Linked DNA regions of Homo sapiens: all the other regions are reported to be linked to region 6. The links are microRNA targets in miRTarBase. Many come from high-throughput screens and were not tested one by one. Region 6 holds a microRNA gene; each other region holds the end of a gene's coding sequence.
Evidence for each region. The annotated mature microRNA hsa-miR-23a-3p reads AUCACAUUGCCAGGGAUUUCC and lies in region 6 at 1,053-1,073, opposite strand. An mRNA with a match to its seed (bases 2 to 7 or 8) in the 3' UTR can be bound and repressed. Matches are read on the target gene's strand: a 7mer-m8 pairs with bases 2 to 8, a 7mer-A1 pairs with bases 2 to 7 and ends in A, and an 8mer does both.

Region 1 (5,041 bases), not on the chromosome of region 6:
TTGAAGCATGTTTCATGCTTCAACGTGTTTCTCCTTCAAGTCTGTCAATACTTAAAGCTGAACAACCTGCCTCTGATCATGTAAAAAAGAATGATTTAACCTGGAACCGGAGCCAAAAATAGAGCTTTAAAGGCAATCAGGGATGTCCTATATCTTTAGAAATAGCACTGTGATGGCTTGATCTCCTTTTCAATACAAAACAAAGCCAAGCTGTTTACAAGGGTCAAAAGCAATTATTTAAAAATTTATATTAAAAAACCATAATCTTCTCTTGTTACCTGTGGACCAAGAAAAAAAAAAAGATAAAAAAACTTCTTTACTAAGAACCACATGTTCATTCAAATATCTTGAAATGCCAGCCAGTACTGGACAGTGAATGTCAACCACCGCAGAGTCTGAGGCTCATTTCCACTAGAGAAAACGAAACCCAAGATACCTTTCCCTTTTGTCAATGTAACAGGGCATTAGCCAGACTCATGTCTAATGTTATAAGCTTTTAGCCGAGATGGCCTTGTTGCGACTTCCCTGAAGTCAGTTTTATCAGAGGAAATAAATGAAAGACAGAATGATTAACATATATAGTGTATAAAAGTATAGAAGAGTAATCTCTTCCCTGTGGCTTTATTTGGTGGTGTTACTGTTGTTTATTCTTTGTTTATATGGGAGATTCAAAGTAAAGCCTATTTAATAATACCATTTATCTAACTGCTGATTTTCTGCTGCTTGATCTTATTAAGCGCAAGACCTGTCATTAGTAATTTCTTTTCTGTATTTTAATTTGCTATGTTTGCACGTACATTACATTTGTTTTGATGTCTATTTTTATTTAACAGATTCAGTCAAAAGGTAATGATAACAGAAACCCTTTCCATTGTCAATAAAAAAAATAATAATTCCAGTTCTCTGTTTAAGCTTTGTTTTCTAGTCACATAAGGCTCGACAATTTACTTAAACTATCAGGAAATGTGTTCTTTGGGTGACCCAAATATTTAGCTTCAAAATTGAGTCTGCCACAAGAGGGAGATCTAAACTTGCTTATGGGAGTGATCTTAAAATTTTTTTCTAAAAATGTGGCCTGAGTAGGAACAATGAGAAGTAGCTTTCTAAGCTCATCTAAACATGGGCATCTTGATTCATAGAAATGAAATAGAATATAGGAACTACGACATTATAATGCCATAACTAGATTTGTATCTACTATTATATAACACTCAATCACTAAAATCAATTTCTTTCTTTTAAAGATCAAGTTAGAAAGATTAATCATCTATAATAGACACTAACATATAGTGATGCAAAAGATCCAGGTATTTCCCTCAAAAAAGAAGCATAAAATATGTTTTAATTTATAAGAAAGATAACTTCTACTAGATTCTAAAATCCATTTAATGGATTAAGCTCAGAGTCTCAACACGTTACTTTTGATCATCAACATTATAAATTTTCACATTTTTAATGTTCAGGACCTTTCAAATACAATTTTATATAAACAAAACTGGTTTTTAAATGTAGGATAGGTCTCATTTAAATATGTTTAATATATTTTCACAAGCAAAGTAATTCAATGAATTGGAAAATACTATAACTTCTGAAAGCACTTTATATTTTCATTTTCCAATAACTTAACAGTAAGAAATCCTATGAAAATACCAAACGAAGACCTCACAGAATTTATTCTAGCAAGTTTAAGTATGTCTGCATTTTTTAGTAATATTATATTGTTGTTTTTAAAGATACATTTAATTCAGAATCTTTAAAGTACTATCTAGCAAAAGTGATTTATGGTTAGTAGTAAAATAGAATTTTTTCCTCCCAAATTTTAAGCAGTCTGATGATTCAGGTATATCTTTCTTGCCCTATTTTTTCATCACATAAAAGTAACAACATTCTTTGATCTTGCAATTCCCCAGTGAGACACAGGAAATAGCCACTTCCCCAGTCTCCAGCACTGTTTTCCATTCCCATCCTAGTGGAAAATAACCCAAGTCTGCTTGCTGAGATGTCGCTTCAGATTTGATTACCAGAAAAAATGTGCAAGAGGACCAAAGATGCAACCTTTACCTAATTATTGGATCTGCCTGAGCTTAAACCTTGCAAATGAACAATGATACACATTCAGGTAAATAATTTGCCATTTCAAATTAACTGACTCTTATTTGAAAAAAAATAAGGAAACACATTCTACTCCTAAGACATTAAAATGAGTTATTAATGAAGACCACAGTTGTGACAATGGATAAAACGTACCAATGAAAGAGGCAACTCAAGGATCCCAACAGCTTCAAATGAGAGAGTGTCTATGTAGCTGGTTTAATTCAGTCTACTAACATAATTAAAAGGAAAAAGTAGATGAATATATTTTTCCAGGTGTAACAATCAAGAAGGCAATTTAAGTAAATAGGAATTTACTTTGAGAAGCCATTTATTTTGCAGTCTTCAGTCCAAAAAAAGTCAACATTTTCAGAATTTTTTTATATAAGTTGTAGGTCATTTTTATAACAATAAACTTTCTATTATCTATTTATCTCTCACATACATTTCATGTATCCTGAGTATTATGTTACAACAATCTGCTCTTGATAGTAATGTTCCTGATAGATTAAAAGATTGAGAAATACTTGAAGAACGATCAAAGATACAATGAGCATGGTATACTTTTGGGTTAAAATGTATTCTTTGATAACTGATGTCATATAGATCCCTAAGTAAATCAAATATTTAATTTCCTACATCTGTCTACCTTAGTTAACTGGCCCATTCCTATAAGCTTAACAAAAACTCACTTTACAATTATTTAAAAAAAACATTTAAGAGATTTTTAGAAGTTAAATGGAAAGATACTTTTGGACATTACAATATTTTTAATGAGTTATTATTTTAAAATTAGAGATTTCACATAAAAACCAGGATTCTTTGTTTTCTCTTTAAAAAAACAGAGGCTCTTGCAACAGGAGACCTGCCTCCTTTTTGGGCCATATTCTGCTGGGTCCGCTGCTCCTTGAGGTATAGCAGGTGATCTGCAGTCTTCACCATTTTCTACTGTCCTTTGTCCCTCAAACCTAGTGGCTTAAGTTCACTTCAAAATCACCTAGACATTACACTACCTGCCTAGAAACCTTCTTGTCTTTAACCTAATGTGAAAACCTTGATGTTTCTCTCTTAAGAGTTTTCCTTGCCACCCTACCCCATTTGTACATCGATTCCTTGTTTCCACAGGAATCTGGAATCATTTGGATAAACATAGTCAACTAAGAACCTGAGACATGAAGAGGGGCTCCCAGGAGCCCTCATCTCCATGAAGAGATTGGACTAAATGATCTCTTTGTTCTCCGCCAGGCATGTGGTTTTTTTGTTGTTTTTGTTGTTTTGAGATGGAGTCTTACTCTGTCACCCAGGCTGGAGTACAGTGGGGGAACTTGGCTCACTGCAACCTCTGCCTCTTGTATTCAAGTGATTCTCCTTGCCTCAGCCTCCCGCCACCACGCCTGGCTTATTTTTGTATTTTCAGTAGCTACAGGGTTTCACCATGTTGGCCAGGCTCGTCTCAAACTGCTGACCTCAAGTGATCCGCCTGCCTCAGCCTCCCAAAGTGCTCGGATTACATGCTGAACCAGGTCAGACATGTGGTTTTCCTTGCCTAAGTAACAAAAGACCTGAAGGTATAGCTATAACCCCGGTGTTCTGCTTTCCCTCAGAAAATGTATAGAAAAGCCCTCCTACCTAGATAATAATTTCATCTGTCTAGATGATTACCTAAACTTCCCATTTCATCTATTTTATTTAAAACAATGTGAGCATCTAAAGAATACTAGAAAATATCTAAAATTTCTACAAGAAAAATTTTAATTATTTTCTGACTTTAAGTTTTAGATTTTGGATCAAAACTACAGATTCTTGGTTTCAGGAAGTGGCTCTATATTAGTGTTGCTTTCAATTAAAGTGTTCTTCTTGGGAGGTACAATTTTAAAAATAATACACTAGATACGTTTTTCCTAAAGCAGTAGATGACATTCAATAAGCCATGTTATAGATAACTAATAACAATGCTAACAGGGTCAAACCAAAAAAAAGGCACAGGTCTTTCACATGTTTTCATTAGATTTGTTTAGGCCAAGTTTTACAATTCACATTTCATTTTGCAAGTAATTTCTACTGAAATATTTATTTCTGAGAAACAACTCAAATAATTTAATTTCAATTAAGAAATTAAATCAACTCAAAATAGGAATAAGACAAACTCATTATGCTTGCTTCAGCATTTCTTCTACGTGGCCAAAAATGCTGGGGTCTTCAATTGTAGAAGTTATCTGGAAAAAAAATTAGGGTCAGGTGAATACTCTTCCTTGAATTTCTTCTACTCTTTCTATAATTAAACAATTATATGCAATGTTGTTTTCCCCATTGTCTTGTAATATTCATATGGAAAGTTTAAAAATAGGGAACTTTGAACCTAATATATTAATACTCATCTGTAGCTTTCCAGAGTAAAAAAATAAACAGTTCAGTTAGCAAAACTATTGGACCTAGATGGTATTTTCTCTAGAGTTGGAGTTCCTCTTAAGAGTCTTCTATATATTTCTGTAGAAAGAATGTTTCTTTTTTGTCACTTGTTCACATAACTACTCCTTACTGTTGCATTGCCTTTTATTATCTTAATGATAAAAATAGGTATATCTTTGCACACATAATGTACACACAAATTAAAACATATGATTGAATCAGCCTAAGATTTCCTAAAATAATTACAAAATTAGCATTTATCAGTTAGAGCATTTTAAACATCTACTGCCGCTAGCCTCAATTATTTTGCTTTCTCATTCACTAATTGCCATTAATTACTATAATAAGGAAAATGTACCTTTTAATTCAATAGGATTAAGTTTCCACAAATTTGTTTGAATTTAACTGACAATTACTAAGAGAAAAAATATTTTGGCAGGCAGCAGTGGCTCAGGCGTGTAATCCCAGCACTTTGGGAGGTTGAGGCAATCAAATCGCTTGAGCCCAGGAATTCAAGACCACCCTGGGCAACATGGTGAGA
Region 2 (5,041 bases), not on the chromosome of region 6:
GCCAGTGACCCAGGCCTGGCCCAGATGCAGTGACTATCCCTCTTTACCCCTTACAGCCAGCATTCCAACCCAGCCTCACTGGGTTATGAACAAGGGATGGGGTAAGACAGAAGGGTTAAGTGTGGCTTCTGCACAACAGATTGCCAATATGCAGTAAGGGCAGATGTGGGCAAATAATTGGCCAGAAGGATCCCTGCTACCACCCCAAACCCCCAATTCTATGCTTGCTTTAAAAATGCTTCTTGGCTCACAGTTGCACAACCTTTTGAAGACATGCACAAAAAATTATTAATACAGTATATCCCACTTCACCAACCACTCCCTGAACATCTAGAACTCACCCGACCCATTATCCCTTTCCAAAATTCAATTACACAAAGGATCAAACAGAAAACCCACAAGGCCATAAAGATCTTAAGAGGCTCAGATTGCCTTCAGTGACATTAAGTGCAGAAGTCAAAGGGGACATCTGGAAAAGATCAACAGGAGGGGAAAAGTCAACCACACAACAAAGGAAACCATACTTTATTAAACTGGAAAACAAAATAATGGGGACAAAGGGATTAAAAAAAAAAGGAACGTCTGGAAGAGAGTAAAGTGCAAGTGGTTACGAAGTGGGTGGTCTGTGGTATCTCTGTGTGTGCCTGAGAAATGTGTGGGCGCACACACCACTACTCCCACCCCCATACCCTTGGACCAAAAGCCAATACAACCATATCTTCTGAGATATATCCAGGCTTTTCCTTCTGCATTCTCTAGTTGGTTTCACCTTCGGCCCTGGACAGTCAGGCTGGGTCTTTGCTAGAGAAAACTTAGGTTTTCCAACCACAGGCCTGCTCCACAAAGCAGCGGTTTCAGCTCCTGAGAAGTTCCCTCCTATTTGCACTCACTAGGAAGCCAGGGGCCCCTGGTCCAAGCCCGTCTCAAAGAAAAATGTCAAACCTTTCAAACTAGTTATTTTATTAAACGATATTAACACACATTTCAAAAGGATTTCATTGTTGTTGCTTCTAAAGCATGTACTTGTTTTGTTTTCCACACCGAACACGTGAGAATATCAATCCAACATATCTATTTTAGATCTTAACAGGCGCCCCCGCCCACTTAAAAAAAATAGTGGGGGAACTGGGGAAAGCAGTAATTTACAGCGGCTTCAAAACAGTAACAGCTGAAGCTCAATTCTGCAGGAACCGGTAACTTCAGGATTGAGAGTGAATATCCTGCCATTAGGAAGTTTATCGTATTCACATTATCTCGATAGGTTTGCTGGACCCATATATATCACAAACATTTTATTCCTGGTATTGGAAAGTATAAAAGTCCTATTCTCTGCTTATTTTCCCCTCCCTGGAATCAAACCAAATTCTATTTACTCTCAACTTTTGAGAGGGTAGAGGGGAGCAGGGAGAGAGCTCTCATCTAAGCTGACTGAAGAGTAAACTCTTTCAAAATACTTAAGGACCCTATTTCTGAACTGTATCACTGAACTTTAAGTGGTACTAGTGTATTCACAACCCCTACCAATTCTCTGTCTGTGATTTTACAGTGAGTACCAAGGACCTTACAACTTCTCACATTCTGCTTCCATATGAATCATGTCCTTGCTAAGACACACTATGTTATGCTTTCTTTAAAAAATATCTTGTTTATTTGTTTAAACTCAGGTTGAAATACAAAAGTCAGAGCATGGTCACGGAGTTTTAAATCACAGACACAGAAAGAATAAAACCCCTTTCTTTCACGTTATGAATACCAGAACTGTCTTTTCTGTTTCACTATTTATCACATATATACACACTGTCATCTTCATTTACTGATGTAAATGTAAATTTTAAGATTTCCTTAAAATTAATAGCTGACAGTCTCATACAAATCCTCACTTCCATCCTAAAACAAACATATTGAGGATTTTGTGGCTTAAAAAACAAAAAAGTACCCCACAAAAACCCAACTCCTTAAAAGCCCACCTTCGAAACTGTCCAACAAAGTCTTCCTTTCATGTATTAACCATCATACTTTTGAGGACAATTATCCCGCCCCAACGTTCAGGAAGCCACTTTCCTGACATCCCCACATTTTCTGATAAAAATTAAATGGTCAGAGAGCCTTATCAAGTAAACACTACTTTTAGCTTAAACAAGAGCAGCAAAGAGAATTCACATTCTTTTATTCTAGAATGAAAAACATCCCATTTAATTTCTGCAAAAAAAAAACCTATTTCAATTTTGAAAGTCAAATATCATTTCCCCACCTCCCACCCCATTTTCTCTTATGCTTTTCCCTAACAAATGTCTTAGGACTCAATATAACTATACTTTCTTTTCTTTGCTACACTACATACCCCATCCCACACGTAAGGTCATGGTATCATGCATTTTTGTGGGGAGAGCTACAGGGCAGAGAGGGTCGAGGAAAGAAAGAACAGTTGGCTTAAGACCAGACAGGCATTAAGAAGATGAATGACCTGCAGCATCCTAACCCCAGAACACATGGCGAGCCCAAATAAATAACAGAATAAATTACGCAAAAACTCCCAAATCATGATGTGCACCTGGTTTATGCTGCTCTTTCTCTGAAAAGTTCATTCTGAGAGAATCATTTTCTGTCACTACATTGCCCACCCTCCCCCATCTTTAATATTCTACTGGAGGAAAAAGCAACCCCATACTTCCTATAGTTAGTTCTATACTAACTTGGAAGAAAATATGAAACTTGCCAGAATTCTCTGGAAAACTAAACACATACTGTTTTACTCATCTAGCTGGAGATTATCAGTTGAGTATGCCTTGGGGTAAGACACTAAATTAAAAAAAAATTGTAGTAAAGCAACATTTACTTTTCAGTGTCCCTAGATATAAAGATATAAACACTCAAAGTACAGTGATTGTCTATTTCCCAAGTACTAGATGTAGAAATACAAACAAGTCTTTCAGTCCAGGGAGAAGGAAAGCACTTATCTTGCATGTAAAACAACTAAGGGCAGAAATGGTCTTTATTTCCTATTGGGAGCGAGAGGTGGGGGTAAGACTTGAGCCTTGAAATGGGATAGACACATGTGTATAATATAAAGGAAAATGCTACTGAATCTCCTCCTTTAAAATATCAAGAATAGGGGTGAATAACACGACTGAGGCAAGGGGAAAAGGAAGATAAAGACAAATATTTCTTTCTTTAATAGTTAACCTTTGTTGAAAACCACCAATAAATATCACTTACATTAGGGAGGCACCATGGTAAAATTAATGTCTACTTCTTATATTTAAAAATGCAGGGATAATATTTCTGTTGCACCTTTGTATCAATAGTCAACTGTAGTGACTGTCTTTCTGGCCACAGCAGAAGAAAAACTGAGGGAGATAAAGTCAAAAAGGAAAAGCAAGAGGCATGAGCTTGGTGCAAGACATGTGAAACTACCTTGAAAACATTTCCTATTCTCTTGTTTACAAAAAAACAGGCAGGTCACATCACACCATTAATGCTTCCTTTCCTTATTTTACATACTGTAGTCACTCCTTATTTTAACCTTGAGGCTGATTAAAAAAAGATTTTAGGAGAAGGGTAAAGAACTAAACTTCAACATGCCTTTAAAAACAAAACAAATAAACCTGACAGGTTCAAGGTCTCTCACATTTCCTCCCTTGCAACATCTCTTGGCTGTTAGCAGGACACAGATACACAGGGAAGGGAGCCGAGCTGGCTACAGCAGTTACTAAGCTGCCGAGAGAGGGGACGGGAATCCTTCCATTGACTACTCGATAAGCCAAGCCCAAAATAACATCCCAACATTGCACATGTGGTTATCTGTACTGATGGAAGTTTTATTTCAAATGTAATAATACTCTTCAATAGATGGGGTAAAATAAAGATTGTTTTCCTCCCCACTCCCCAACCCCCCAGCCAAATGAAATGGCTTTGGTTGTGTTTCTTTACTTTTTTTTTTTTTTTTTTTTTTTAATACAAACAACTTGGGGAAGGTAGATAAGTGCAATGGGAGGGAGGATTGAATTGAATAGTAAAACGTAAGCGTATGTGATTTCTTACTTTGGAAGAGAGGCCCTTTGTTATAATAAAAAAAAAATCGAGAAAGAGAAAACAAATAAAAACAACAACAATAAACCAAACTCCTACTTCCAATGTTCTCTAGACTGTTCAAAATGCCTTTCCCTTGGTTTCCATCAGTACCTGGGAGGGAAGAATGGGCGTTTTGGTGCAAAGAACGGAGGGCCCCTAGCAAAAGGTGGCCTGGGTCTCTTTAAACTGTGAAATGGGTCTCTGCTGAGAAAAGGTTCCCTAGGCCGAAAGTCTGGCCGGGGACTCCGTAAGATTATACCACTCCGGCTGATGGTGTCTCTGTGTGAGGGACCCAAGGGGGGGCCACTGCTGCTGTTGCTGCCTCCCCCACCTCCTCCTCCATGGGGTGGGCCCAGGTGTTCCAGAGAATGGGAGGGTAGGGTGAGGCTCTCTCGTACACGGCTAAGGCCAGGGCCGTTGAGGTCCCGTTGGGTGGGGCCCCCGTGGTCCCTGGGTCCTGGGAGTACCCCAAAATGCTCAGCCAGGGTCCCTTGAAGGAGGGAACTATGGTCCTTGGGAAATACTGCCACAGCCCCTGCCACTCCGTGCTCTGCCAGTGGTGGGGCTGGGAAGGGTACAACTCCAGAGTGGTCAACAGGGGGTGGAGGAGGGGGTGGAGTAGAAAAGGGGACACCACTCCCACCACTGCTGCTATGTTCCCCAGGAGGGGGAGGAGGAGGTGGGGTAGGGAAAGGAATTCCACTGTGCTCTCCAGGAGGAGGGGGTGGGGCAGCATGGGCCAGGGCTGCCTCCTTTGTGAAGGGGTTCGAAAGATCCACAGAGGGTAGATGAGTGGGTGCATCTCGAGAGAAGATACCACCATGATCCTTAGGAGGGACAGGTGGGGCAGATGATGGCCCCACTGGCTCTCTCTGGAAGGGTGTCCCATGTTCCAAGGGGGATGGGGGAAGATGATGCTCAAATGTTGAGTTGAAACTGTTGGAACGAAAGCTGCCGACACTCTCCTGAA
Region 3 (4,000 bases), not on the chromosome of region 6:
ACTGATTAATTGCTTTTTGGTTCCAGCCTTCAGTTTCCCTTAGAAACAATAGCTTTTCTTTGCAGCTTTATTCTGGTTCCTGGAAAATATACATTGAAAAATCCTTTGCATTTCTTGAGGAAAATAGAAAAGTTTTCTCTCATTTCCCTTCTTCTTCCAGTGGTCTAATACCTTGCTATTCAATTTTTTTCATATGGTTTCTGTTTCTGCCCTTAAATAGCTATTTTTTTTTTCTCTCCCTGCAGGTGACACTGATCCCAACTCATGACTCAGAAGTGATGAGGGAATGGTACCAGGAGACCCATGAGAAACAGCAAGATCTCAACATCATGGTTTTAGCAAGCAGCAGCACAGTGGTTATGCAAGATGAATCCTTCCCTGCATGCAAGATTGAACTGTAAAAACCAAGGCCAGCCACACCACAGGATCTGAACTTTGTTTCCAGAAATTCTTCAATTTGAAATCACCTTTTCTAAAAAGTCAATTCATCTAGTTAAGTCGCTGAACAATTACCTGCCAAATGCTATACTGTGTCATGGTGATGCAAGTCACTAAATTTCTCAGTTTTTGCTGATTGCTAAGGGAAATAACAGTATTTCCACAATAGGGTTCAAATTCCTGCAAAATTACCTACCCCAGTTCATCTCTGCTGAACATTTGGAAACCATGCACTAGCCAACCCAACTGACTTCTGCTAGGTAGAGGCATTTGTCTTAGAGAGAGAGAGAGCGCGGGAGAGAGTGAGAGAGAGTGAGAGCACAAAGATAACGCAGGAGAGAGAGAGAGAAAGAATGAGAAAGAAAAGGAATGCAAGAGAAGGAGATGTAATGACAGAGAGTTCTGGTGAGATACCCAGAGAGAAAAAGAGAGAGCAGGGTGGGGTAAGGAGGAGAAAATAAACCAACAATTAGGTCTGCATTTTCTCAGGCAGTAGGCATTCTTTAGTCTACATAGGCAAAGTTTTCCATTTTTGTCAGTCTGAGTCATCAAAAAGAGTCTTAATTTTCTAAAACAAGTTGGCTAGAAGAAAGTAAAAAGAACAACACTTGTTATGAGGGCATGTGATATTTTCACATCTTAATTAAGCTCCTTCAGTTTGAAGGCTGCACACTGACATAATGTAGTGAGTGTAGACTGGCCATGCAAGTGGTTTGGGCCCCATTCAGAACTCTCAGACTCTAAACACACAAGTAGATTGATCTAAGGCATGCTCCCAGCATTTGTCCACCCACTTAGTCCACTCTGAGTCGATTAACCTGCATGCAGCAACACCCAAGTCCACCCCAATTAACTGAAGCAAATACCAAAGCAGTTGGGAGTACATATGGTAGACAATTTGCCTTAGGAAGTGACTTGAATGTACAAAGATACTTGATGCACTTATTTTTTAATGTGAGACAGCAAGTTTATAAAACATCCATATAGGATTATAGATACTTAAAGGAACACGTGGGTGAGCGTGTGTGGGGGTACTAGAAGCTGATCTGATTGGTCCAACAGTTTGATGCTGAGTCATGCGTGTTGAATCCCACTTCAGTGCACCTGTGGCCTCTCAGTCAAACAAGTTGTGCCTTTCACAGCTTCTTTACTACTGCAAGTTCAAGACTGAAATGGCTTCTATGATCAGAACTGGGAAAACAGTGAATCTTATGGTGGAAGAGGTTCTCAGCAAGTGTACAGTATTTACCTTCCTTTGTCTTACATTGGCTTTTTAAATTTTCCATTAATTTCAACATAATTATGGGAACAAGTGTACAGAAGAATTTTTTTTTTAAGATATGTGAGAACTTTTCATAGATGAACTTTTTAACAAATGTTTTCATTTACAGGAAATTGCAAAGAAAATTCTCAAGTGATAGTCTTTTTTTTTAAGTGTTTCGTAAGACAAAAATTGAATAATGTTTTTTGAAGTTCTGGCAAGATTGAAGTCTGATATTGCAGTAATGATATTTATTAAAAACCCATAACTACCAGGAATAATGATACCTCCCACCCCTTGATTCCCATAACATAAAAGTGCTACTTGAGAGTGGGGGAGAATGGCATGGTAGGCTACTTTTCAGGGCCTTGACAAGTACATCACCCAGTGGTATCCTACATACTTCTTTCAAGATCTTCAACCATGAGGTAAAAGAGCCAAGTTCAAAGAACCCTAGCACAAATTTGCTTTGGGATTTTCTTTTCTGGAAAAAAAAAATAAAAGAAATAGTACATTGAAAACAAATGAATTCTCAACTCCTACGGTTCATGTAGAGTTTAGAGAAAATTTCCATCATTGTCATCATTGAACTGTGAACCTGGGAAGCCAGATCATGATTAACACTGACATCAAGTTTCAAGTTGCAGATCAATGCACCCAGTGTTCAGATGAGGCAAACTTCTCCGTGACAACTGTGCTGTGCTCTGTCACATTACATTTCCTGCAGACTCTAAGATCTACGGAGTAGAGAACAATGACCTCATTTTATTTTCTATGTTAGTTATTTATTTCAAAATTAACATTTTAGTTGATTTTTGTCTGATAAGTCTATGTTTTGCACTGCTAACTATGATGAGGGTTTAAAAAAATGCTTCTTCAGGGTCCTTTCACTGAGGACCTATGCAGTCTACTTAATGCTGTGAATTACATTTTTCAAATGTTTAATTTTTTAAAGAAAATTAATATTCTATTTTTGTTAGGCTTCTCTAGAAATGCAGCTTTTATTTATTACCCCATTTCTTTCAAGTCCTTGGAAAATAACATATTAAGGGTACAAGAAATTAACACATGATGGAAAAGTCATTGTGACGCCAATGAATTTCATTGAGTATAAACTCATCTACTTCAAATTTATTTTATAACACAACCTAAGATACTCAAGATAATTATTTAATGGTTAGCTCTTAAGTTGAATTGGTCTACATAATGCGTGGGAAGAAAACCAGATTTTTAGCCTTCTTGCCAAATCCAGACCTCTGGTTGATTTTTCTTTGACAGAAGATGCAAGTTATTTTCCAATTTCACAATTAAATGTATTTAACCTGAACATTATTTTGCTTTAAAAACTATAAACATTGTAGGAGAATTATAGCCAGTCTTCAGTTATAACCACTCCACCCTCCTCACTTTCTCTCTCTCTCTCTCTTTTTTTTTTTTTTTTTTTTTGCTATGGGATTTAATGGGAAAAATATGTAAAAACTGTCACTAGTCAGCTGGCTCTTTTTCCTATGAAATCTATCAGTACCTTTCTCCATCCGTTGTTCTCAATATGACCACAGAGCCTGAGTATACCAAGAAAACCAATATTCGCATTACAGGTTGCTCCTGTCCTTCCAGACACCTTTCCTGCCTGTGTGACTAACCTAATTTTGCTAGTTCCATAAATACACGATTAGTTTAGTAACAGCCATCACAATGTACCATGTACATTCATGGTGAGAGCTAAAGATCGACACAGACTTCTAGGAGCTTTGTTCATACTGATTACTTAATCCAATTGTATAGATTGAATATTTGAGTGGAAGGAATTTACACTCTGTTTAAATGATGGGATTCTATCGAGATAGCACTCATGATCATGACCTTTTTGGTAGTATTCTTAAACAAAATTCTACAGAGACTAAATGTTAGCGATGATCCTCCATTTTCAATTTTAACCAATTCTGTCCCCTTTCTCAAAACCCTGAGCCCTGTGCATGCTTTCTCAGTCTTGTGGTGGGACTGGATACAATGACTAACTTCCCCTCCTCCCCTCTTTAAACACCATTTTCCATGGAGTTCAAAAAAATTTTTTTTCTTAACGTTACATATCATAGTGAATGGTTTCCCCAGTGTATATGAATGTTTTAAGTGTCTCCAATAGCTTATGCAGTCTAGGAGCTTTCCAATACTCATTTAATTAAGATTTAATCATTTGCTAATGGAAATCTTACCACCTTTCATTTTCCCTCTGTTACCAAATTTCAGCTCTTAGGAGCTGCTCTACAATTCTGAATTTGCTTTTCTTGCCTCTCTTTAGTC
Region 4 (5,041 bases), not on the chromosome of region 6:
GAGGTGAGCAGCTCACCTGAGGTCGAGAGTTGGAGACCAGCCTGACCAACATGGAGAAACCCCGTCTCTACTAAAAAATACAAAATTAGCCGGGTGTGGTGGCGCATGCCTGTAATCCCACCTACTCGGGAGGCTGAGGCAGGAGAATCACTTGAACCCAGGAGGCGGAGACTGCAGTGAGCCGAGATCACGCCATTGCACTCCAGCCTGGGTAACAAGAGCAAAACTCCGTCTCAAAAAAAAAGAAAGAAATTTGAAAGCAGCCAGCAACATCAAGGCACAGATGGAGCTTGAGCTACCCTCTTCAGGCTATTCAGAAAATTCTCCCAAGGGGAAGTTGGGAAGGAGAACTTCTATTTGGCCCCAGCCTAAACTCTCCTGGAAGCTCGATGGGGCCTCTGTCAGCTTTCCCCTCTGGACCTGCCCATTTGTCCCAGAGGTGCCCACTGAGGCTACCTCAATGCCTGTCAAACTAAAACTTAAACCTAAGAGTGTCTGCAGCATGGTCTCCAGCCAGCCTGATCAGAAGACTATGGAGGGGGCCAGGCACGTGGCTCACACCTGTAGTCCCTGTAATGCTAGCACTTTGGGAGGCTGAGGTGGGTGGATCACCTGAGGTCAGGAGTTCAAGACCAGCCTGGCCAACATGGTGAAACCCCATCTCTACTAAAAATACAAAAATTAGCTGGGCGTGGTGGTGGGCACCTGTAATCCCAGCTACTCGGGAGGCTGAGGCAGGAGGATCACTTGAACCTGGGAGGCAGAGGTTGCAGTGAGCCAAGATCCCACCACGGCACTCCAGCCTGGGTGACAGAGTGAAACTGTCTCAGAAAAAAAAAAAAGAAAAAAGAAGGAGGGGCATACTGACTCCTCACTGAAGAATGGGATAGACACCCTCTATTCTACCTCTCCCAGCAAGGCCATAAGTCTTTGCTCTGAAAGGAGCCAGACTTTAGAGCCGGCTACAGGTGGACATGGGGTGAAGACATCAGGTTGCGAGGGTACCCTCTCTCGTTCCCTAGGAGCCTGGCCCCTGCAAGGAGGGGCACCTTTAAACAATCAAGCATAGTGAGTGGGGCGGCAAGCAGAGCAGAGACACAGACGACAGCGGGGTGGAGCCCCACCAGTCCCTCTGAGTATAAGGCAGAGGGAGTCCCGCTGGGGTCCACATCCCTGTGTGTCTCGGGCTGATTTGGACACAAGGCTCACACATTCATCCTACCTGCCCCAGTGCTAGCTGGCCGAGGATGCCAGGCTGTACCCGACCTTAGGCTGTGCGGCTTGGAACCTGGACCGGGGCAGGAATTGACAGGTTCCCCCAAACAATGTCACTCCCAGGACCCTAAGACCTCAAGCAGCAGAAACCACAATTCTGGATGTTACGTGCAGCGCCAGCTCCTGTCTGCCCTGCCTCCTTATCCCTTTCTCCCAGGGCGACTTTGGACCAGGTCTCGAGGCCGGGAGACCGGCCCCAGCCCGCCCGACCGGGATGGGCCTGGCGCCCGGGGGAGGCCGCGTCGTGCTGAGACAGCTCCGAGCTGCCTCCCCGCAGCCGCGGGCCGCTACAATACGGATTCGGCGGCGAGAGGAAACAGTCTGGCCCTCCAGGGGACGCAGGGAAATCCAACCTTTGGGTCGGGGGCAATTAGGACTGGGAGTCGATACCGCGGGCAACGAATGATGAATGAATAAATGAAAGGATGAACAGAGTGGCGAGGCGGAGATGGGCCATGCGGGGCGTCCCGAGGAGGGTGCCCTTCCTTGCCCCGATGCTGCCGGGACCGTCCCTCATCCCCCAGGTCGCAGCAGACTCAGCCAAGACACCCGGTCCTAGTGCGAACACCTCGCGGGCCCCGGGAGACGCCTGGGCGCGCGGTGCAGCTCTGGCCCGGAGCCCGCATTCCGGCGGCCGGGAAGTGCCTGCCCCGTGGGCAGAACGCGCCGAGTTGCCGCGGCCCCAGGAGCCGTCCTGCCCCGCGCGGCAGCAGCCCCTCGCGGCGGCCTCCGGAACCCCCGAGACCGGCCCCCGGGCCGCAACCCCTTACCCGCCCTCCTCGGTGGCCTCGCTCCGGCTTAAAGCGGTCATCCCGGCGCCTGCACCCAGCGCCCCGACCGCGCGCCGGGACCCAGCGCCCGCCGGACCCCGCCCGCCCCGTCGAGAGCCCGCCCCGCCCGCCCGCCCATTGGCGGGTCGCGCGGGCCGGGCACAGCCCATTGGCCGTTCCTCCCCCTCATTCCCCAGCTTCCCCAGCTTCTCTCCTTCCCCACCTTCCCCAGGTGGGGCTCCAAGCTCTGAGCAGATCCTAGCGCTCGGTTCCCCGGACTGGGAGGTCCCGGAGGCCAGGGCCTGGCGCGGCACCTCCTGTCCCTCACGTCGAGGGTATTGTGTCCCCTCTGGACGCTTCTGTCGTCCTAGTCTTGCGGCTTGGGTCCCTCTGCAGGAACCAATTCCGGCCCCTCTCCAACCTAACCCTTCCCAACATAGAGCTCCGGATAAGTTTCAATTTTACCGTCAGTGGGGAACACCAAAGGGGATATTGAACACCATGGTCTGACAGCCAAGTCACCACCACGAACCCGGGAGCCAGGATGCTCCCACGCACTTTTGCCGGAGTTAACATTGCAGTTTCTCCAAGGAAATACACTTTTGGAGGAGTCTGCAAAGGGGCTGAAGGTGGACACAAATCAAAGGCAGGGAAGCAGAGGCACGTGCGCTCAGTGTGACAATGAGCTTTTGCCTGGCCTGCAGGCCCTTTCCTCTTCCATCCCCACCAGGACACTTGGTCCTTGGGAGTGTGGTCAGGGGAGAGGAAAAGCGCAGGCCAGATTTGGTCCCATTCCCAACTCTCTCCCCCAGCCCTTTGGCACTACAGCATCATGGTGGGAGGGCACCAGCAAACAGGAGGGGTCCCAAGGGGAGCCTAGGTCCACAACTGAGGACCTGGGAGCCAAACCCAGTCTCAGGCGCCCAGAGCTGACTCCTCCTACAGCCCCCATAAGGGATACGCTAATGCAGGAAGACCAAAGTGGAAGAACCATGGCCAAGGCCACTTTGCAATTTGGGTTTATCTACCAGAGTGGGAGGGAGGCCTTGTCCCTGCTCTTTCCCATCTTCGGTTCACGTAAGCCATTAAAGTCTCCCCGCAGCACTGAAGGGGGCAACCTGTAACCCTAAGATAGTAAGCTACTGCTTTCCCAGCGCCTCTGCACCAGGAGGTGGGCAGGATGGCAGGTGACACCACCATAGCTCCCACTGCGGGGCACGAGGCTGCAGCCATTCCCAGCCTGCTCAGAGGGCAGGGTTCAACCACCTCCCCCTCCCCAGCAGAAAAGAGAGGAAACAGGTGCTTCAGCTGTTGTTTATTGACATACAGGTAGGCTCTATAGCAACAGGCCTGGAGGTGCTGCAGTAGTGGGGGAAAATGGAAGGTGGAGGGTGGAGTGTTTGCTGCAGGACAGCTGAGTGGAGGGTGGGGACAGGTGCAAACTGGAGAGGCCTAGAGAGCTAGAGAAGCAAGTAAGGGCCAGGGCCAGAGTCGGCTTCAATGGAACAACAGCCCAGTGCCCTAAGGCCCCTAACTCTTGCTGGCTGTTTCTTGACCCCAAGCCAGGGTTGGGAGTCCTCTGGGCATCCATTTTTTCTAAAGGAACTGGACAGAGTACACACAGGAAAGGAAGCTGTCACCCTCTTGCCATCTGGCTCCAGGGGCCTCCAGTCCAGCATTCCTCCTTCTTCCCTTGATTGGGTGGGGCCACATGATGGGCAGCCAGGCTCTGGGCTGTCCCACTAGAGCAGGCTGCAAACACAGCCATGTTTCAGTGAGGCGTTGATCTTCTTCCCTGGTGTCCCAACCTACCAGTGCCACGTTACAGCCCAGAGTGAGTTCTACAAGCGTTGCTGGCCTAATGGATGGGCTGGGGGAAGGGGGTGGGACAGGGGCTGGAGGAGGGGCTCTGGGGTCCATCACGGCACAGGAACAACACGCATGGTGTTGGTGAAGCCGGAGCCAGGGCGCCATCCGGTCAGCACAATGACCACATCTCCCTTCTTGAAGAAGCCTCGGGCCTTGCCTGGAGGAAGAGAAGGGAGGTTGGTGAGTAAAAGCCAAGCCAGGCAGGTTTGCACCTGGGCAGCTGCCCCATAGCCTGAGTACTGAACTAGGCTGGCTGACCACTACTTCCTCACACCACAAGGTGGCACCAAACTCACAGCCCAGGCAAACAGGAGGAAGGCCCTGAAATGTCCTTATCACTCAGATGGCAGGGTTGGCAGGGACCTTTGGACATCATTCACTATCCTGGAGAGGGTGCAAAGCCTTGCCCAGGGTCAGAGCTAGCTGCTTCCTGTCATCTGATGATACCCTACCTTATACAGGGACAATGGCCACATCAGTACGTAATCTGTGTATGCCACCCCACAGCACAGGAGCTGTGGCCAATTTTATTTAAAAAAAAAACAAAAAACAAAAAAAACTCTCAGTAATGAGCAGATGCCAAAAAATGGACAATTTTGCTTTGAGCCCCAGACTAGAAGAGAAGAGGAACTGAATTGCTCAGCCCTACAACTCAAAGGACCCTTTTCCCTCCTGGCTCAGCTTAGGACTTCGGAGAATGAGAGATTCAGAATGAACATTCCCAATAAGGGAGAGGAACAGTCGCTGGGCCTTTTGCCCCACTAAGGTCTGTGTGTTCCCCTTTCTATTCCCCAAACTTTCGGGGTCCCACAGAAGCCAATGCTCAAGCATCCCCAAGCTCCTCTAGGCTCTAGCCCCTGCTCCAGCCACGTACCAACATTCATGGCAAAGTTCACCCGGAGGTCCACGTCCTCAGCCCAGGCCTCCTGGACTGGGTCCTTGCACAGCACAGGGAAGATGCCACGGTACAGGTGGGCCTGACGAGCTGTCTGGGGATTCCGGGTCACAGCAATGATGGGGGCACGTGGGCGGTATCTGGCCACCTGGTGAGCAGACCTGAGATGGGATGGGGGACATACAGAAGAGACCATTACACGAGGCCCCAGGAAGTACCCTCAGGGCGTTCA
Region 5 (5,041 bases), not on the chromosome of region 6:
TTTCAGCTCTGTGTTCTCGTTTTGCCCAAGACCTTTGGCTAGAGCAGAACATAAAAGATTCTTTCCAAAAAGTGACACTGAGCAGATATGGAAAATATGGACATAAGAATTTACAGTTAAGAAAAGGCTGTAAAAGTGTGGATGAGTGTAAGGGACACCAAGGAGGTTTTAATGGACTTAACCAATGTTTGAAAATTACCACAAGCAAAATATTTCAATGTAATAAATATGTAAAAGTCATGCATAAATTTTCAAATTCAAATAGACACAAGATAAGACATACTGAAAATAAACATTTCAGATGTAAAGAATGTGACAAATCACTTTGCATGCTTTCACGCCTAACTCAACATAAAAAAATTCATACTAGAGAGAATTTCTACAAATGTGAAGAGTGTGGAAAAACCTTTAACTGGTCCACAAACCTTTCTAAACCTAAGAAAATTCATACTGGAGAAAAACCCTACAAATGTGAAGTATGTGGAAAAGCCTTTCACCAATCCTCAATCCTTACTAAACATAAGATAATTCGTACTGGAGAAAAACCCTATAAATGTGCACACTGTGGCAAAGCCTTTAAACAGTCCTCACACCTTACTAGACATAAGATAATTCATACTGAAGAGAAACCCTACAAATGTGAACAATGTGGCAAGGTCTTTAAGCAGTCCCCAACCCTTACTAAACATCAGATAATTTATACTGGAGAGGAACCATACAAATGTGAGGAATGTGGCAAAGCTTTTAACCTATCTTAACAACTTACTGAACATAAGAAAATTTACACTAGAGAGAAAGCCTACAAATGTGAAGAATGTGGCAAAGCCTTTAACCAGTTTTCAACCCTTATTACACATAAGATAATTCATAGCGGAGAGAAACCCCACAAATGTGAAGAATGTGGCAGAGCTTTTAACCAGTCCGCAAAGCTCACTGAACATAAGTTAATTCATACTGGAGAAAAACCCTACAAATGTAAAGAATGTGGAAAAGCTTTTCACCGATACTCAATCCTTAGTACACATAAGAAAATTCATACTGGGGAGAAACCCCACAAATGTGGAGAATGCGGAAAAGCCTTTAACTGGTCCTCAACTCTTATTACACATAAGATAATTCACAGTGGAGAAAAACCCTACAAATGTGAAGAATGTGGCAAAGCTTTTAACCAGTCCTCACACCTTATGAGACATAAGAAAATTCATAGTAAAGAGAAACCCTACAAATGTGAACAGTGTGGCAAGGTCTTTAAGAAGTCCTCAACTCTTACTGCACATAAGATCATTCATACTGGAGAGAAACCTTACAAATGTGAGGAATGTGGCAAAGGTTTTAGCCAACTCTCAAACCTTACTAAACACAAGAAGATTCATACTAGAGAGAAACCCTACAAATGTGAAGAATGTGGCATATCTTTTAACCAGTTCTCACAACTTGCTATACATAAGATGATTCACACTTGAATGAAACCCTACAAATGTGAACGATGTGGCAGTTGTTTTAACTAGTTCTCGAACTTTACTATGCATAAGAAAATTCAAACTGGAGAGAAACTCTACAAATGTGAAGAATGTGGCAAAGCTTTTAACCAAGTCTCAACACTTACTATACATAAGATAATTTATACTGGAGCAAAACCTTGGAAATTCAAAGAATGTGGTAAAACTTACAATCCTCAAAACTTCTTACACCTAAAATTCATGCAGGAGAGAAACACCACAAATGTGAAAAATTTGGTAAATTCTTTAACAAGTCTTCAACCCTTTCTGCACATAATATAATTCATACTGGAGAGAAACCCCACAAATATGAAGAATGTGGTAATGCTTTTAACCAATTCTCAAATCTTACTAAACAAAATTAATACTGAAAATGTTACAAACCAGAAAAATGTGAAAATGATTTTAACAAAACCTTCAAATTTTTCTAAACATAAAGGAAATCATACTGGTAAGAAATTATAAAAATGTGAAGAATGTGACAAAGCCTTTAAATGGTTGTCACACTTGATTGTAGGTAAGATAATTCATACTGGCAGAAACTCCCAGAAGTGTGAAGAATATGGCAAAACTTTAATTCCTATACCTTATTGCACAGGAAAGCATTTATACTTCAGAAAATGTTGTACTGATATAAAGAATGTAGAAAAGCCATTAATATGTGCTTACATCTTATTCAACATTAGAGAGTTAGTACTTAATAAAAGCATTATAAATGCAATTACTGTCAAAACTCAGCATAAGGTTTTGTTTTAGTGTGTGGTTTGTTTGTTTGTTTGTTTTGTTTTGTTTTTTTTAAATGAGACTACGTAATACTCTCTCCCAGGCTGGAGTGCACTGGTGCAATCTTGGTTTACCGTAACCTCTGCCTTCCAGGTTCAAGCAATTCTCCTGCCTGGGCCTCCAGAATAGCTGGGACTACAGGCATGTACCATCACGCCCGGCTAAGTTTTGTATTTTTTAGTAGAGACAGGATTTTACTGTGTTGGCCAGGCTCATCTCGAACTCCTGACTTGAAATGATCCATACACCTCTGCCTCCCAAAGTGCTGGAATAACAGGTGTGAGCCACTGTTCCCAGCCAATATAAGCCTTTAAAGTAAAAAAAGAGTTTTTATTTTGAAGACAAACATTAGAAACATAAAGAGGGTTGTAGTGCCTGCCTTACTTGTATCACAGATCTTATTGTACACATTTTGTATCCGAAGCAGTTGCTCAAACTTCGTTCAACATCAGGGAATTTATATCGGAGAAAAACTACAAATGTAATACATTTCAAAAATTTTTCAAAAACTACATCTTAGAAAACACCAGGGGATGCATACTAAACTATATTTTTCCACATGCAGTAAATATAAAAAAAATCAAAAATAAGGCTACGTAAGTATCAGAGAATTCACAGTAAAAATATCTAAGGCACTGACACTTCAAACATTGCACTAAGTAAATGTGCTGAGTATATAAAATAACCCAAAACTAAAGTGGGTAGATAAATTATTTGTACATAACTTTAAAAGAAGTAGAAATATTTTTGCAGAGTTACAATTACATTCAAAGTATACTTTTTTCCTTGAAAAAAATTGCAGAATTTATGAAAAGTGAATAATGTAATTCAACTCAAATTACTTCATGCTCTTCATTCCTATTGCATTCACTAGTGAAAGCATGTGATCAATTGTTGCTGCATCAAAGGTATGAGAGATTCTTTTTTGTTATGTCAATATTGTTTTTGAATTTTTCTATGGAAGAGTAAAGACATTACAATGTAGGATGCATGACAAAAGTCTAAGTGGAGAGGCTCTTTGTGTTTAATTTATAATATTGAGTGATGTATGAGGTAAGTGTTCAGAGTAGTATTCTGCGTTATACTCCAAACAAAATAATTTTAGTTAAAATTAATTAGTATATAATTTTACTAATTGTACTTTTATGTAATAAAATGCAGTACAGTTTGAAAGGCAATGGAAGGGCACCGTGGATCAATAAGGCCAAGAGGCGAGACAAAGAGGGCAAAAATCTTTATTGAGCTCTCGGGCGAGGTTCACTGGTCCACAGGGGGAGGGCCAGGGAAGTCGCACTGTGCCAAAGGTGCAGCGCGCTTTTATGGATGCTGGGTGAGGAGTGGGCAGGGTAGGGGCGGGGTCGGTTGAGTTTCACACTTCTGAGTGTGACACGCCCTAGTGGGCATGCGCGTTAGTCGGGGTGACGGGAACAGGAAAGGTGAACCCGGAAATGCTGAGTCGGGGTATCTGAGGTGGTGATCGCCATCTTGGAGTCTTCACTGGAGTCCAATCAGTCCAGCCTATTTTTGGTTATAGAAAAGGGGCGACGAAATCATCTGGCTACTTCCTGCTGTTAAGGGGTGTCACTGGGGAGAGGGCCTAAATCAGAGGTTGGCAGTTGGACGTAGGGGTGAAGTAACATCTGGTTGAAAGTGACCCTGGTGATTTCTTGTATCCGCTGGCGGAGAAACTGTACTAGGATTGGGGCAAAACACATTATTATACAGAGAATTATAATTGGGATAAGGAAAGGGAGCATCTGTTGAACCACAGGTGAAAACCACCAAGAAGGACCAGGGTGGAGAGGGTCCTAGGAATGTTTTAACTCCTCTTGGATCTTTTTTTTTTAAAGTTTGTAAATTGGTCTCAACTACCCCTGACACGTTGAGATAATAGCAGCATTCTTCCTGTAAGAATAAACATGTCCCTCCTTTTTCTGCTGTAAGCAAGTCTAAGGCCCGCCTGTTCTGTGCTGCGACCTGTGCTACCGAAGTGATCTGTCGCTGTAGGGAGGCCAGGGACTCGGCCGATGCCTCAATGGCCAACTGCAGGCGAGTAGACAGATCTTGAGATGTTTGGATTGAGTGGGTGAGGGCTCCTTTTCCTAGCCCTGATGCCACTAAGGAGGAGGCTAAGGAGATGCCTAGTACTAAGGGTAGGAAAATAGCCCGTTTGCTTTTATTTTGCAGCCTTGGCTCGGTCCAGGCTAGCAGATGGCTAAGTTCGTCCTGACTATATAGGGTCAGGCTAGGGATGAGAGAGACGAGTAAGCACAAGGTGTGATTACCAGTTGAGTTAAGAACTTTAGTTAGTGTGGAGTTACACCAGAAGTAGCCTCCGGGTGGTGCCAGGGCGCTGGTAAGCATCCTGGTCTGGTTACACCAAGAGGCATTTGGGGTAGAGTAACAGAACGGGAACTTGTGTCTTGTAGGGTCTGAGAATAGTGGGACCTGTCCTTTTGGGACCGGTGGTATAGGGGTGGATGAATTTCTTGTATAATTAAAGGGGGTAGGGAGAGGAACTGCTACTAAGGGAGGTCTTCCGAGGGCTGCACAGAGGAAGCAGTGGGAGAGGTTTTGTACCCCTGTGGATTGGAGCAATTGTGCACCTTCTGAAATTAAAAACCACGAGAAGGGGGAGGACTTGGCCTGGTCAGCTGCCGGTTGAAGCTGGCTGGCAAGCTCTTTCTCGGCTGACTGGATTGAGGAGGCTAAGTCGGATAACCCTGTGACAGTGGTTTTAAGGGTCCTGGCAATGCGGA
Region 6 (4,953 bases):
TGTGAACTGGGGAGGTGGAGGTTGCAGTGAGCCGAGATCGAGCCATTGCACTCCAGCCCGGGTGACAGTGCGAGACTCCATCTCAAAAAAAAAAAAACAAAAAAAAAAAAACAGAGTCCTAACTCTTCCCTGCCCTGAGAACCCCCTCAAGGCAGGGAGGATCAGCTATTCCCAGCGCCTCAGGACTAAGCACACCTGCTTGTGTCCCTTCTGGGTCCACAAGGAACTTGTTCCATGCCCCACATGTGGGGCGGGTGTCACTGCTCCTCCCGGCAAGTTAGAAAGCTGCAGGGCCCAGCAAGAAGGGGCCAGGTCAGGTCAACCCAGCCTGATACCGGAAGCCAGGAGTTGGCATTTAACGGTCTGGAGGCCCAAGGCAGCTTCCTCTTGGGTAACTGGCTGCTAGGAAGGTGCGGGCCGGGCCAGTGCCCCTGCCAGGCTTGGGAGAGGAGGGGCCAAGCCTCCAGGCCCGGAAAGGACACAGCTGGCTTCCCTTTTAATGGAAGGGCCACCCACTCACCCACCTATCTATGCTGGCACCACAGCCCAGCCTGAGCTGTGGCCATGCAGGGGTCCCCAGTTGCAGAGTTGGGGATCAGGGCCTGCAGCACACATTTGGGCCCAGCCAACCCCACCCACCACATCCCTCCTCCAGACACAGGTCTGATTCTGAGTCCTCATCTCTGCTCCAAGCATCAGCCCACCCAGGGAAGGCAGGGGCTGCAGGCTCCAAGGGGGCTTGACCCCTGTTCCTGCTGAACTGAGCCAGTGTACACAAACCAACTGTGTTTCAGCTCAGTAGGCACGGGAGGCAGAGCCCAGGGAGGCCAGGCAGCAGGATGGCAGGCAGACAGGCGGCAGCAGGGGACAGGCGGCAAGGCCAGAGGAGGTGAGGGCCTGGGGGGCGGAACTTAGCCACTGTGAACACGACTTGGTGTGGACCCTGCTCACAAGCAGCTAAGCCCTGCTCCTCAGGCCAGGCACAGGCTTCGGGGCCTCTCTGCCACCCCGTCCCCGGGCAGCATCCTCGGTGGCAGAGCTCAGGGTCGGTTGGAAATCCCTGGCAATGTGATTTGTGACAGGAAGCAAATCCCATCCCCAGGAACCCCAGCCGGCCGTGGCACAGGGGTGAGGGGGGCACCGGGCGGGGCCAGAGGCTGGCACCTGGAGGGGAGAAAGAGAGAGAGAGCAAAGGAGGTAATGAGATTTGGGGACACCTCCCCTCCAGGTCCCCAGATGCTTCCTTTGATCACAGGGAAGCTCTTTTCTCATATGCAGGAGCCACCACACGGGGAGCTGGAGCCTAGCTGTGCCCTCCGTTCCAGCCCCAGGACTGGAGAGGCAGAGATACCTAGAGGGCCCATGCGGGACAAGGAGGCTACAGCAACTTGCATGGCCAAGCTCCCCCCTCATTGAGCCCTGGGCAGGCCAAATGGGGCCATGGGGAGAGGAAGCCAAGGGGGGCCAGGCAGGCGGGTGAGGAAGTGATCTCACCCCAGCTGGCGCCACTTCCTAGAAGCCTGGAGGGCAGGAGGAAACCACCAGGGCCTCCCCCCCCGTGGCCCGGTCTCCTCAGTGGCCAGGGCTTAGCCCACACCCACCAGGGCGGATGCCGGCAGCAAGGCACCCCCCTCTCTTTCTAGACACGCACCCCCCGCCCCCCAGAGCACAGGATCCAAGCTCCAAGATACAGGCCTCTCCACCCAAACAGCCCAAGGTTCAAATCCTTGCTCCACAGTTTCCCAAAGACTCTCCAAAGCTTCAGTTTCCCCATCTGTAAAATGGAGCCAAGAGCCTCTTTTGCATAGCCCAGTGAGATGTCACCGAGTATGTATGTCACTCAGTAAGTGCCCAGCACCAGGGCAAGATACAGGATTTTCAGGACCCGGTGCAAAATGAACACGTGGTCCTCTAGTTCGAAAACTAAGAATTTCAGGCCAAGCATGGCGGCTCACGCCTGTAATCCCAGCACTTTGGGAGGCCGAGGCAGGAGAGTCACCTGAGGCCAGGAGTTCAAGACCAGCCTGCGCAATACGACAATACCCCATCTCTACAAAAAAAAAAAATATTTTTTCTTTTTTGAGACAGGGTCTCACTCTGTCGCCACGGCTAGAGTGCAGGGGTGCAATCACAGCTCACTGCAGCCTCAGCCTCCCAGGTTCAAGTGATCCTCCCACCTTAGCCTCCGGGGTAGCTGGGACTACAGCTATGCACCACCATGCCCGGCTAATTTTTTCTTTTTCTTTTCTTTTTTTTTTTTTTTGAGACAGAGTCTCGCCCTGTCGCCCAGGCTGGAGTGCAATGGCGTGATCTCGGTTCACTGCAACCTCCACCTCCAGAGTTCAAGCAATTCTCCTGCTTCAGCCTCCCGAGTAGCTGGGATTACAGGTGCCCGCCACCACGCCCAGTTAAGTTTTGTATTTTTAGTAGAGACGGGGTTTCACCATGTTGGCCAGGCTGGTCTCGACCTCCTGACCTCAGGTGATCCGCCCACCTCGGCTTTCCAAAGTGCTGGGATTACAGGCGTGAGCCACCACACCTGGCCCTAATTTTTGTAGAGATGGGGTTTTGCCATGTTGCCCAGACTGGTCTCCAACTCCTGGGCTCAAGCAATCCGCCTGCCTCAGCCTCCCAAAGTGCTGGGCTTACAGGCCTGAGCCACAGTGTCTGGCCCACAAAAAATTCACTAAAAAATCAGCCAGGAGTGGTGGTACACATCTGTAGCCCCAGCTACTCAGGCGGCTGAGGTGGGAGGACTGCTTGAGCCCAGGAGTTTGAGGCTGCCGTGATCTATGACCATGCCACTGAACTCCAGCCTAAGTGACAGAGCAAGACCCTATCTCTAAAATAAACAAAAACAAGTTTAAAAAAAGAAAATAATTTCAGGCTGAGCGCGGTGGCTCATCCCTATAATCCCGGCACTTCGGGAGGCCAAGACAGGAAGATCGCTTGGGGCCAGGAGTTCGAGACCAGCCTGGGCAATACAAGACAAAAAAATTAATAATAATAAAAAAAAATTCATGACCCCAGCAGTGCAACATTAAACTAACCTCCAGGTCCCTCCAAGCAGGGCTGCCGTGAGACTGCCCGTTTCACAAATGCATGAAGCCAGCCCTAAGTCTTTAGTGAGTGGAGCTTCTTTTGATAAGAGCCCAACACCTGGCTAGCAGACTCCAGTTTTGGAGCCCAAGTCTGCCCAGATTTGAAAGCCCCAGCTCTGCAGCTTCTGAGCTGGGTGACTCTGGGCAAGTCACTCAACCTCTCTGGGCCTCAGCTTCCCCATCTGCAAAACAGGGATAATAAGTATGGACTTCATAAGTCATGGTGAGGACCCCATGAGTGATAAACATGATCACGACAGAGCTGCTGCTGTCTTTGCCAAGGCAAAGGATAACGGAAACGTGGGTGTCTCACACCAGGACCCCAGTGTCCGCCCGATGTGGTGGCGCTCACCACTTCGAGACAGGCGGCGAGTGATGTCCTGTTTTGTCCCCTCCCTATACACACATACACACATACCAGCCACTCTTTCCCATCAGGCCCCAGCCCAGCCCTGTCCCCTTAGGGTCTGGAGGCGCCAACTGGGAGCAGGCGAGGCCCCGCAGGGCGGCCAGCCTCCCTGGGCCGCCTCCGGAAGTGAGACAGCACATTCGTGTCCCAGGGACGAGAACGGGAAGGGCGGCCATTTGGCCAGGCTCGTTTCCTGTGGGGTTTCCCCTGCACAGAGCCCAGGGCCGGGGCCAAGGCCACTCCCCATCCCCGCAGGCACAAAAGGTCTGGGTCTTGAGTGGAAGGGGTGCTGCCATGCAGGTGCCCAGGAGACAGGGTCCCCTTTACCAATCATGGTGCACTTCTCAGGCTCTTGGGAGATGGTGTCCAGGGGGAAACCAAGCTCCTAGCAGCTGGAGGCATGAGGGAGAGGGCGGGCCCCTGGGCTGGGGAGCAAAGCAGGCCCCAGGCTGCATCAGGACACCCCGGCCAGCCAATGCATGTGGGTATGCCTGAATACCCCCTCCAGACAGCGTGTGCGTGGACCAGACACACAAGGGTATGTATGTGTACCGCTACCCCCCCAACCCCATGCTCCAAGAATGAATCAGGGGCAGCTTCCGCCGGGGGCGCCACCACCACCTCCGCCCCCAAGCCTGGTCCCCAAATACTTTCCACCCTCACAGAGCAGCTGGGATCGGAAAATACCAAGGGCTGCAGGCCCCGCCCTGCCCGCCGCGCCACCCGCCCTCCCAGCCTGTCACTAACGCTTTGCCTAATGGGCCCAGACTCTCAGCAGAAGCTCCGTGGGCTGGGCCTCGAGCCAGCCGCCAACCTGGGCTGCCCGGCCAAGCGCCGCCTGACCAGGAGCCCCCCGCCCCTCTGCCCCAATCCCAGTGCAGCGACAATAACAACCGCCCCGATGGGCAGCCCTCAGAGGGTGGCACTGGGTAGGGAAAGTCAGGGCACTGACAAGTGGGTGGGCCCCGCTGCCCACCCAGGGCTGGGGTGGGGGGAGGCTCAGGAAGGGGTGAGTAAGTGAGGGCTGAATCACTTGTTATAAATAGGGGAACCATGAAAGTGACATCCCAGCCCCCATTGCGTCCCGCCAGTCCACACTCTAACCCCCACTTAGACTTTAATCTTTCCCAGACCAATCACAGAATTCCCAGGGGCCCCCTCACCTTCATGTTGGGAACCCTTAGTAGAGTGGTACACCCCGTCATCAGGTCCACCCCTGCCTTCTCCCCACATAGGTACATTTTGCAGTGAGGGCCTGGCTGTGGGGGTCCCCTGGCCTTGAATGCAGTCACTGGTGTCTGCGCCCTATCCACCTCCCTCAACGCACCGATTCCCAGGCCCAAGGCTCAGGGCCTCTAGGCTCTCCAAGGCATTCTCAGGGTGTGGGCCACCACAGTCCTGGAGGGTGACCCCAGAACCTAGGCCAGGCGGGAGGCCAGGGGG

Region 1: the mRNA of ACSS3 is a reported target of hsa-miR-23a-3p. Seed matches in the 3' UTR shown: 8mer at 4,124-4,131, 7mer-A1 at 4,082-4,088, 7mer-A1 at 2,892-2,898 and 8mer at 1,444-1,451.
Region 2: miRTarBase lists RPRD2 as a target of hsa-miR-23a-3p. Seed matches in the 3' UTR shown: 7mer-m8 at 3,625-3,631, 8mer at 2,156-2,163, 7mer-m8 at 1,572-1,578 and 8mer at 1,244-1,251.
Region 3: the mRNA of MAP1B is a reported target of hsa-miR-23a-3p. Seed matches in the 3' UTR shown: 7mer-m8 at 1,390-1,396.
Region 4: the mRNA of PKM is a reported target of hsa-miR-23a-3p. The part of its 3' UTR that is shown has no 7-base or 8-base seed match.
Region 5: the mRNA of ZNF138 is a reported target of hsa-miR-23a-3p. Seed matches in the 3' UTR shown: 8mer at 805-812, 8mer at 889-896, 8mer at 1,141-1,148, 8mer at 1,225-1,232, 7mer-m8 at 1,309-1,315, 8mer at 1,393-1,400 and 6 more.

Annotation. Positions count from the first base shown.
Region 1 is chr12:81,254,123-81,259,163 of GRCh38, reverse strand. ACSS3 (acyl-CoA synthetase short chain family member 3) reads right to left here. Exons shown (of 16, transcript NM_024560.4): 16 at 1-4,307. The coding sequence ends at 4,242. It overlaps PPFIA2 (PPFI scaffold protein A2), which reads left to right. Exons shown (of 33, transcript NM_003625.5): 33 at 1-1,189. Among named protein-coding and RNA genes, the nearest start is that of PPFIA2-AS1, 23 kb to the left of the region's middle.
Region 2 is chr1:150,472,469-150,477,509 of GRCh38, reverse strand. It overlaps RPRD2 (regulation of nuclear pre-mRNA domain containing 2), which reads right to left. Exons shown (of 11, transcript NM_015203.5): 11 at 944-5,041. The coding sequence ends at 4,176. Among named protein-coding and RNA genes, the nearest start is that of TARS2, 12 kb to the left of the region's middle. RefSeq lists an enhancer at 4,514-5,026.
Region 3 is chr5:72,204,839-72,208,838 of GRCh38, forward strand. MAP1B (microtubule associated protein 1B) reads left to right here. Exons shown (of 7, transcript NM_005909.5): 7 at 246-4,000. The coding sequence ends at 401. Among named protein-coding and RNA genes, the nearest start is that of MIR4803, 37 kb to the left of the region's middle.
Region 4 is chr15:72,195,686-72,200,726 of GRCh38, forward strand. PKM (pyruvate kinase M1/2) reads right to left here. Exons shown (of 11, transcript NM_002654.6): 10 at 4,789-4,970; 11 at 3,344-4,071. The coding sequence ends at 3,965. GRAMD2A (GRAM domain containing 2A) reads right to left here and starts at 2,102. Exons shown (of 12, transcript NM_001012642.3): 1 at 2,046-2,102. The coding sequence starts at 2,086. RefSeq lists an enhancer at 1,540-1,719 and a silencer at 1,830-2,249.
Region 5 is chr7:64,831,445-64,836,485 of GRCh38, forward strand. ZNF138 (zinc finger protein 138) reads left to right here. Exons shown (of 4, transcript NM_001271639.2): 4 at 7-2,236. The coding sequence ends at 758. Among named protein-coding and RNA genes, the nearest start is that of ZNF138, 40 kb to the left of the region's middle.
Region 6 is chr19:13,835,543-13,840,495 of GRCh38, forward strand. MIR23A (microRNA 23a) reads right to left here and starts at 1,117; the gene lies at 1,045-1,117. MIR23AHG (miR-23a/27a/24-2 cluster host gene) reads right to left here. Exons shown (of 1, transcript NR_036515.2): 1 at 1-4,953. It overlaps MIR24-2 (microRNA 24-2), which reads right to left and starts at 817; the gene lies at 745-817. It overlaps MIR27A (microRNA 27a), which reads right to left and starts at 975; the gene lies at 898-975. RefSeq lists enhancers at 3,050-3,159, 3,190-3,409, 3,630-3,729 and a silencer at 4,150-4,379.